2 linked regions of the Homo sapiens genome follow. The protein of the gene in region 1 interacts with the protein of each later gene in a pairwise test. Each region holds a gene or a part of one and is shown in the gene's direction. Other genes may lie near its edges. The genes, in order: DYNC1I1 and ANXA7.

What was found.
Region 2: the proteins of DYNC1I1 (region 1) and ANXA7 interact in a two-hybrid assay, tested with the Homo sapiens proteins (one large-scale study listed by BioGRID and IntAct).

The regions. Positions count from the first base shown.
Region 1 is NC_000007.14:95,775,357-95,779,176, forward strand, and holds part of DYNC1I1 (cytoplasmic dynein 1 intermediate chain 1), read left to right. Parts: intron 1-3,820. UniProt on the Homo sapiens protein: Acts as one of several non-catalytic accessory components of the cytoplasmic dynein 1 complex that are thought to be involved in linking dynein to cargos and to adapter proteins that regulate dynein function.
Region 2 is NC_000010.11:73,379,432-73,383,251, reverse strand, and holds part of ANXA7 (annexin A7), read left to right. Parts: coding exon 1-77; intron 78-3,050; coding exon 3,051-3,221; intron 3,222-3,297; coding exon 3,298-3,373; intron 3,374-3,820. UniProt on the Homo sapiens protein: Calcium/phospholipid-binding protein which promotes membrane fusion and is involved in exocytosis.

The DNA.
Region 1 (3,820 bases):
ATCCATATTTTCCAAATAATTAAATGAGTTAAATGACATACTCAACATCATTTAATAAATGGCAGAGGTAGGATTCAAATGAGATCTCTCCAAAGACTCTAAAACTAGGACCCATCCATTTTGGCTATTGTGCTGTGTGAGAGACAAAAAAGCGAGTGTATGTCTGTATCTTTCAGGTTTGCTCTCCAATTTCAGTGTGATCCATTGTTATTTTCTTAAAGCCACAAGTATAGCCGCACTTTTTGCCAGTTGATTGGTAACTGTGAATAATATATGCACACTCAAAGTAGACCCATGGCCCCTTAAAATAAATTATGGCATTGTTTTTGTCTCCTTAATGAAAGTAGCTGTTATACTTTGTGGATCTCAAATGCTGTGTAAATAGTTGCTACCTTAATCAGGGATCTCTTTTACTAGAAATCTTTGTGGCTTCTGCATCCCCTAGAGCATGTGAGAACATATATTCTCCTGGGAACTGTGCTGGAACTAGGAACTTCTAGAGTTGACTTTTTTGTTTTGAGAGTTAACTCAAATTAATTCAACTCTCATTTTTCTTCTTTGCAATGTATAAACCCTTGACGAGGTCCATGTAAAAGTTATTCCTCTTGACTGGGCACAGTAGCTTACACCTGTAATCTCAGCACTTTGGGAAGCCAAGGCAGACCAATCACTTGAGGCCAGGAGTTAGAGACCAGGCTGGAGGCTCGTGCCTGTAATCCCAGGCTACTCGGGAGGCTGAGACAGGACAATCACTTGAGCCCAGGAGGCAGAGGTTGCAGTGAGACGAGATTGCACCACTGCAGTCCAGCCTGGGCGACAGAGCAAGGCCCTGTCTTAAAAAAGAAAAAAATTATTCCTCTTGACAGAGACTTTTCATCAATATCCTGGACTTGTGTTCCTTGATTCCTCTCTGAGTGAGGCCTGGCCCCAGAATCTCAGAGTGAAGTTTCCATCGTAACATAGATACCTCTGCCTAGGTGCTAATCCTCATGAGCTCACATATTCATAAAACATCCTTGATTCTTTGTTGGAGGAACCTTCTTAAACAAAAACCCATAGATACTGTAAAAGGGAGGCATACGAATGGTTTTCAGATGGTCATTGAACCCACTAAAATTGAGGCAAATTTTCATGCATTTGTGCATAAATGTAGTTTTCTAGGGAAAAAATGGGGATATTGCTAACTAAAAATACAGGAAGAATCACTGGTTTACATATGCTGTTTAAAAAAGGGGAGAGGAGCAGAGGTCACTCTGCTGAAATGTATCGAAGACAAAGCCAAGCTATCCTACCAGTGGCAGCCAAAAATAAAATGTTCTTGGCTATCAGGACATTTTTGTGGCATTTCACCAGGAGTCCAGGTGGCAGGTATAGCAAACATCAACTGACACTGAGTCAGGCCTGCAACTGAGTCAGGCCTCCAGGCGTGGCAGGCAGTCCTAGCTTGGCTTGTCATTCATTGAGAATCTCCCCTGTGCATAATCAGTGCTTTATAGATGTGTTAGTTCATTGAATCATCCCAACATCCCTGTAAGGTGGACATTTTTCTCTTTCTTTGACAAACAAGGAGATGCTTGGAGGGATTAAGTCACTTGGTCAAGGCCATATGGAGCCAGATAGTGGAAGGGCTGGATTTGAAATGCAGGTGGGCCTGATTCCAAAGTCTGTTTCTTCTCTTCCTACCATAGCTCATAGTTTCTCTGCCTGTGTGGGACACCAAAAAAAGTATTGTTTAGTGTAGCTTTTTATTGTGGCAGGACTAAGAGTCCCTCAAGAAATATGTTCACACACTGATAGGAAAAGCCTAAAATATTATCAAAGGAACAACAACAAGTTGTATGTCTCCCAGAGTGGCAGAAGAAAAGCAAGCCCTGCTTTAACTTAAGGTGAGTTGAAACTCCACACTTTTGCTTCCCCCATCGCCAGGTGTCTTGCCGAGTACCAAATGCACAGCAGCCCCCACCTAACACAGCCTGAAAACTATCTTGCAGGGGTAACTGTAAATCAAAACTTTATTCACTGCAAAGATGAATTTACTTTAAGGCTGTTCTGTCCTCTGAGGCTTCCCTGATACAGCAGCTGTGTCATGATCCGGAACACTGACTTGCTTCTAAATCCTGGGAGGGGCACTACTTACCAGATGACTTACGTGCTCTTTAGTTTTCAGTTCATACTGGTCTTGAAATCCTCTTTAGCAGCTGTTCTTGCTTCCAAATTATTATTTAAGCGCTAACAGTTTTCCGCTTACCTATATTCTTGCTATGATCGCATAGAACAACCCACTGTTTCATTTTGGGGGTTCAGAACAGCTAATGCCATCAATGTGGCAAACACACAAAGCAGAAATTTCGGTCAGAGTTGAGGGTATTCATAATAAAAATAATGAATCTCAAGCACTATAGAGGACGATTGTACTTGATCAACAGACCTGCCTGGTAACCGTTCCAGTGTGCTTCATTATGCTTTAACTCAGTGCTCTTCCAACATTTTTTTTTCTCTTTTATAATCCCTCAAGAATTTTTTAAAAATTCTGCAGCTCCATCACCTCCACACATTTAAGGTTACATCTAATGCTTTTCATCATAAATTTATAGAATCACAATTAATGTGATTTTCAGAATGTTGTAAACTTTGACAGTTAAAAATAAAACCGTGACATCATTCTTTGAATCCAATTAAAATCTAAATACCAACTTCAATTTAAAATGTATGTGAAGAAGCTCTTTTCACAAAGGGATGTTTTTATATCTTGCAGTTAAGCACCACAGTAAAATTTGGGATTTCTTGGGGTTTTGTTTGTTTGTTTAGTTTATATTTGTCTTTAACCTTATATGGCAGAAGGCATTTTGTGAAAATGGAGATGGAAAAAGGGGCCCCGAATAATTCTACAACCACAGGCACATTCTCCGGTAGATAGTTTTAGGAAAACATACAGGCAAAAGCTGCGGATCTGGAAATTAATGCCATTAACTTTTCCCTTGCCTGCAGGCTCTTTAGAAAGCCACTGTGGAGGCCAGGGGTATGCAAATGCCAGTTTGAAGATTGCACATTTATCTAGCACAGGTGCTGTGTGTTATGGGTCAGTGTGGCACAGCTACTGGCAGTCAGGCCCATTGCCTTTTGTGTATGGGACTCAAATTAGAGGTGAGTAGGGCCAGAAGGAGCTGCACAGAGGCTGGTCCCATTTTCTGCTCTCAAGTAGTGGTGACTGGGAATAGCTGTCTTTTATCTTTCTTCTATTTAATGATTTTCAGTACAAGATGGGCTAATTCCAGTGCTTTCTTTTCTTTTTAGTTTTATTTATTTATTTATTTATTTATTTACAAACAGGGTCTTACTCTGTTGCTTAGGCTGGAGAGCAGTGGCATGATCATAACTCACTGCAACTCCAACTCCTGGGCTCAAGCAGTTCTCCCAACTCATCCTTCCAAGTAACTGGGACTACAGGCATGTCCCACCACACCAGCTGGTTAAAAAATTTTTTTTTTCATAGGGATGGAGTCTTGCTGTGTTGCCCAGGCTGGTCTTGAACTTGTGGCTTCCAGCAGTCCTTCTGCCTCAGCCTCCTAAGTGTTGGGATTACAGGTGTGAGCCATTGCACCTGACCCCAGCAAGTTTTTAGATCAGTTGTTCTTAGCCAGGAGCAATTGTCTTCTCCAGGGGACATTTGACAATGTCTGGAGACATTTTTTATTATCTCAATTGGGGAAAAGGGCTGGCATCTAGTGGGTAGAGGTTGGGACTGCTGCTGAACATGCCACAAAGCACAAGACAGCTTCCACAACAAAGAATTATCTGACCCAAAATGTCAATGATGCCG
Region 2 (3,820 bases), on another chromosome or scaffold:
TTGGACGAGACCTTGAAAAGGACATTAGGTCAGATACATCAGGACATTTTGAACGTTTACTTGTGTCCATGTGCCAGGTGAGTATAGTATGAATGCTTGTGCGTTGATAGAGGGAACATACTTTAAAAGCCTTTTGCCAGTGAGCATTCTTTATTCCTTTTAATATTTAGCCACCTTGCAATATTGCCATCTTTAAGAGGGACAACACAGAAACCAGTGTACAGATTTCTTTGTAGTTACTATTGAGATTTATTCCTGTAAATCTGGCTTTTGTAAGGAATTAGAGATTTAACCTCTAAGGTTGTATGGAATCAGAAACCAATTCGAGGCTCTGTGGCTGGGATGGGGATGAAACTGTACATTTGAGCTTATCACTATCCTGCCCATTATGCCCCACCATCAAGTGAAGATGTGCAGGACTGCCATAGAGGTGCTACAGGAAGTGAGGACTATGTGAGGAGACCCAGAAATGCAGAAAAATGTTTTAGGGTTCCCAGTAATAACTGTGATTAGCACCTTCTTTATTTTGATTCCCCAGGTGTGCTGGAGAATTGACAGAAAATACTCCAAATAGGGTATTTGGAATGGCATTAGAAACACACTTAGGGCCAGACATTGTGCCTCACACCTGTAATTCCAGCACTTTTGGAGGCCAAGGCAGGAGGATTGCTTGAGGCCAGGAGTTTGAAGCCAGCTTGGGTACCATAGCAAGAAACCATCTCTATAAAAAATATTTTTAAAAATTAGCCGAACATGGTGGTATGTGCCTGTAGTGCCAGCTATTCAGGAAGTTCAGTGGGAGGATCACTTGAGCCCAGGAGATTGAGGCTGCAGTGAACTGTGATCGCACCACTGCATTCCAGCCTGGGCAATAGAGTGAGATCCTGTCCTTAAAAAAAAGAAAAGAAAAAAAGAAAAGAAGCACACTTAGATGATGAAGGTGTATTTGAAAGAGATTATGTAAATGACTAGCATGCTGATTCAATATCAAGAGTTATTGCCTATTGTGCTAGTGCACAAGATTGGACCATCTGGAGGGATCTAAAGGAGAGGAGGGGCTCTTAAGAGCCAAGGGAGGGGCTGGGTGTGGTGGTTCATGTCTGTAATCCCAGTACTTTGGGAGGCTGAGGCGGGTGGATCACCTGAGGTCAGGAGTTTGAGACCAGCCTGACCAACATGGTGAAACTCCATCTCTACTAAATACAAAAAATTAGCCAGGAGTGGTGGCACCTGTAATCCCAGCTACCTGGGAGGCTGAGGCAGCAGAATCGCTTGAACCCGGGAGGCAGAGGTTGCAGTGAGCTGAGATTGTGCCATTGCACTCCAGCCTGGGTAACAAGAGCAAAACTCCATCTAAAAAAAAAAAAAGGGAGGTAGCTGTGGAAAGGATAGTGGATATGGAAATGAGAAAGCAAAGTAAATGGGTTGAAGGAAATTGAATTTACCTAAATCAGAGTAACAGGAGGGCAGTAGGTTAGGATTTAAAAGAAACAAGAAGGAAAACAGACAATGCTAAAAAATGGCTATTAAGATTTTACATGAGGTGCTGAGTCTCTCTTTATGCAGAGTTCAAGGCCCAGCCCTACCTTTTCCAGGGCATGAGTAGAGGAGTAACTTCCTGAGAAAGTGTGTGTGAATCCAAAGGCAATAATCTGGGAAATTTTTTGTGAGTACCTTTTCCTGTGTTATATTCAGTCGCCCATGTAGAATGTGCCTCTACGTATTCCTTGTGCCAGTTGCTCAGAAGACAGTTCTTCAGCTTCAAGGAGGATTTTTCCATCTTATTCCAAAGATGGTCCCTGAGACTCTAAAAGGCAGCCTTTTCTTGTTTGGGTTTGTCTTTCTGTTTTTGAGAGAAACCAACTGCTCATTAAGCTTAAACTCTTCCTTCCTCCTTCCTTTCTTCCTATTCCAGGGAAGAGTGTGGTATACAAATAGGCACAGTCTAACAGAACATGAGTTATTTGTAGCTGCTTCTGTAAAGCTTATGTGTCATTTTTATGCGTGTATTTATGGTAAATACTTACATATTAAGATTATAATTCGATGGCTGAGTGTGGTGGTGTGAGCTTATAGTCCCAGCTACTCTGGAGGCTGAGGTAGGAGGATCACTTGAACCCAGGAGTTTGAGGCTATGATCATGTCTGCAAATAGCCATTGCACCCCAGCCTGGGCAACATAGTGAAATCGTGTCTCTTAAAAAAAAATATTATACTCAGATGAAGAAAAGAAAGTTTATGAAGCCTCCATATTATATCCTCCCTCCCTCCTGCCCTAGAGTTAAATTTCTTGAGGGCAGAGACCCTGTCTCTCCTGTGTCCCTACCGCTTAACACAGTGCCTGACACAAAGAAAGTGCTTAATGTCTCTTAGTCGCATGAATGAATAAAAAGTAGAACTCAGTACAGTGCATATTGATCTTAAATTCCAGCTAAGAGAGCTGTTTCTTCATTTGAGTGGTAGTTAATATCTCCTAGTAGAGATATTTTTGTTTAAACATTTTGGGTTTAATTTAGCTCCCAAAAGCCCTCATTTTTAACATAACCTCATTAAACCGTGATCTTATATTATAAAATCCAGTTGACAGTATAATAAATTACTAGTTATATTTCCATGCATAGAAATGAAGCATATGCATGACAGACATTATGGATTAATCTTTAATAAATTATCTCTTTAGGCCAGGCCCAGTGGCTTACATCTATAATCCCAGCACTTTAGGAGGCTAAGGCAGGAGGATCACTTAAGCCCAGGAGTTAGAGACCAGCACCTGGGCAACATAGTGAGACATGCTGTCTCTACAAAAAATAAAAAAATTAACCAGGCATGGTCGTTTGTGCCTGTAGTCCCAGCTATCTGGGAGGCTGAGGTGGAAGGATCACTTGAGCCTAGGAGGTTGATACTGCACTCCAGCCTGAGTGACAGAGCAAGACCCTATCTCAAAAAAAAAAGAAATAGTCTCTTTAAATCCAAAAGTGAACTAGATTGGAAAAAAAAAATTTAGTAGAACTATTATTTATTTCTTCCAATTCCTGCCTTTCTCTTTTGCAGGGAAATCGTGATGAGAACCAGAGTATAAACCACCAAATGGCTCAGGAAGATGCTCAGCGTCTCTATCAAGCTGGTGAGGGGAGACTAGGGACCGATGAATCTTGCTTTAACATGATCCTTGCCACAAGAAGCTTTCCTCAGCTGAGAGCTACCATGGAGGCTTATTCTAGGGTATGAGCTTTTCTTTTGAAGATTTGGCTTCTGCTGTAAGATACAAAAATATTTAACCCTTTAATTTTGTTTGCAGATGGCTAATCGAGACTTGTTAAGCAGTGTGAGCCGTGAGTTTTCCGGATATGTAGAAAGTGGTTTGAAGACCATCTGTAAGATATTTTTGTGCTTTGCTTTATTTTCTTTTTAAATGAGTGGGAGCTTTGAATAGTTGTTCCCATTAAATGTTGATAATATAGTCCACGTGGAATCTGCTTAGGCAGTAGCTGATCTAATCCTTTGGGGTTTGTTTTTTGTTGTTTGTTTTCTTTATTGGATAAGCCCCCAGAAACAGTCCTGTGTTTTTACATACAATTTCCTATGAATGGTAGTTCTGTGATCAAACAGGGCTGTTTGGGGATTATTTGGCCTTCATCTGTAGGCCTGTCTTGATAACTGTGCCAGAATACCTGATAGTTGTAGCACTTCCTTTAAAGAGAAAGGGAAAGTCCTGAGGAACTCACAGTGTCACCACGAAGCAGTTTGAGTCCTCAAAACAGATATTTCAGGTACTCAGCCCAGTGAGACTCATTTCCTTTTTGAAGTTAACCAGTTTCTGG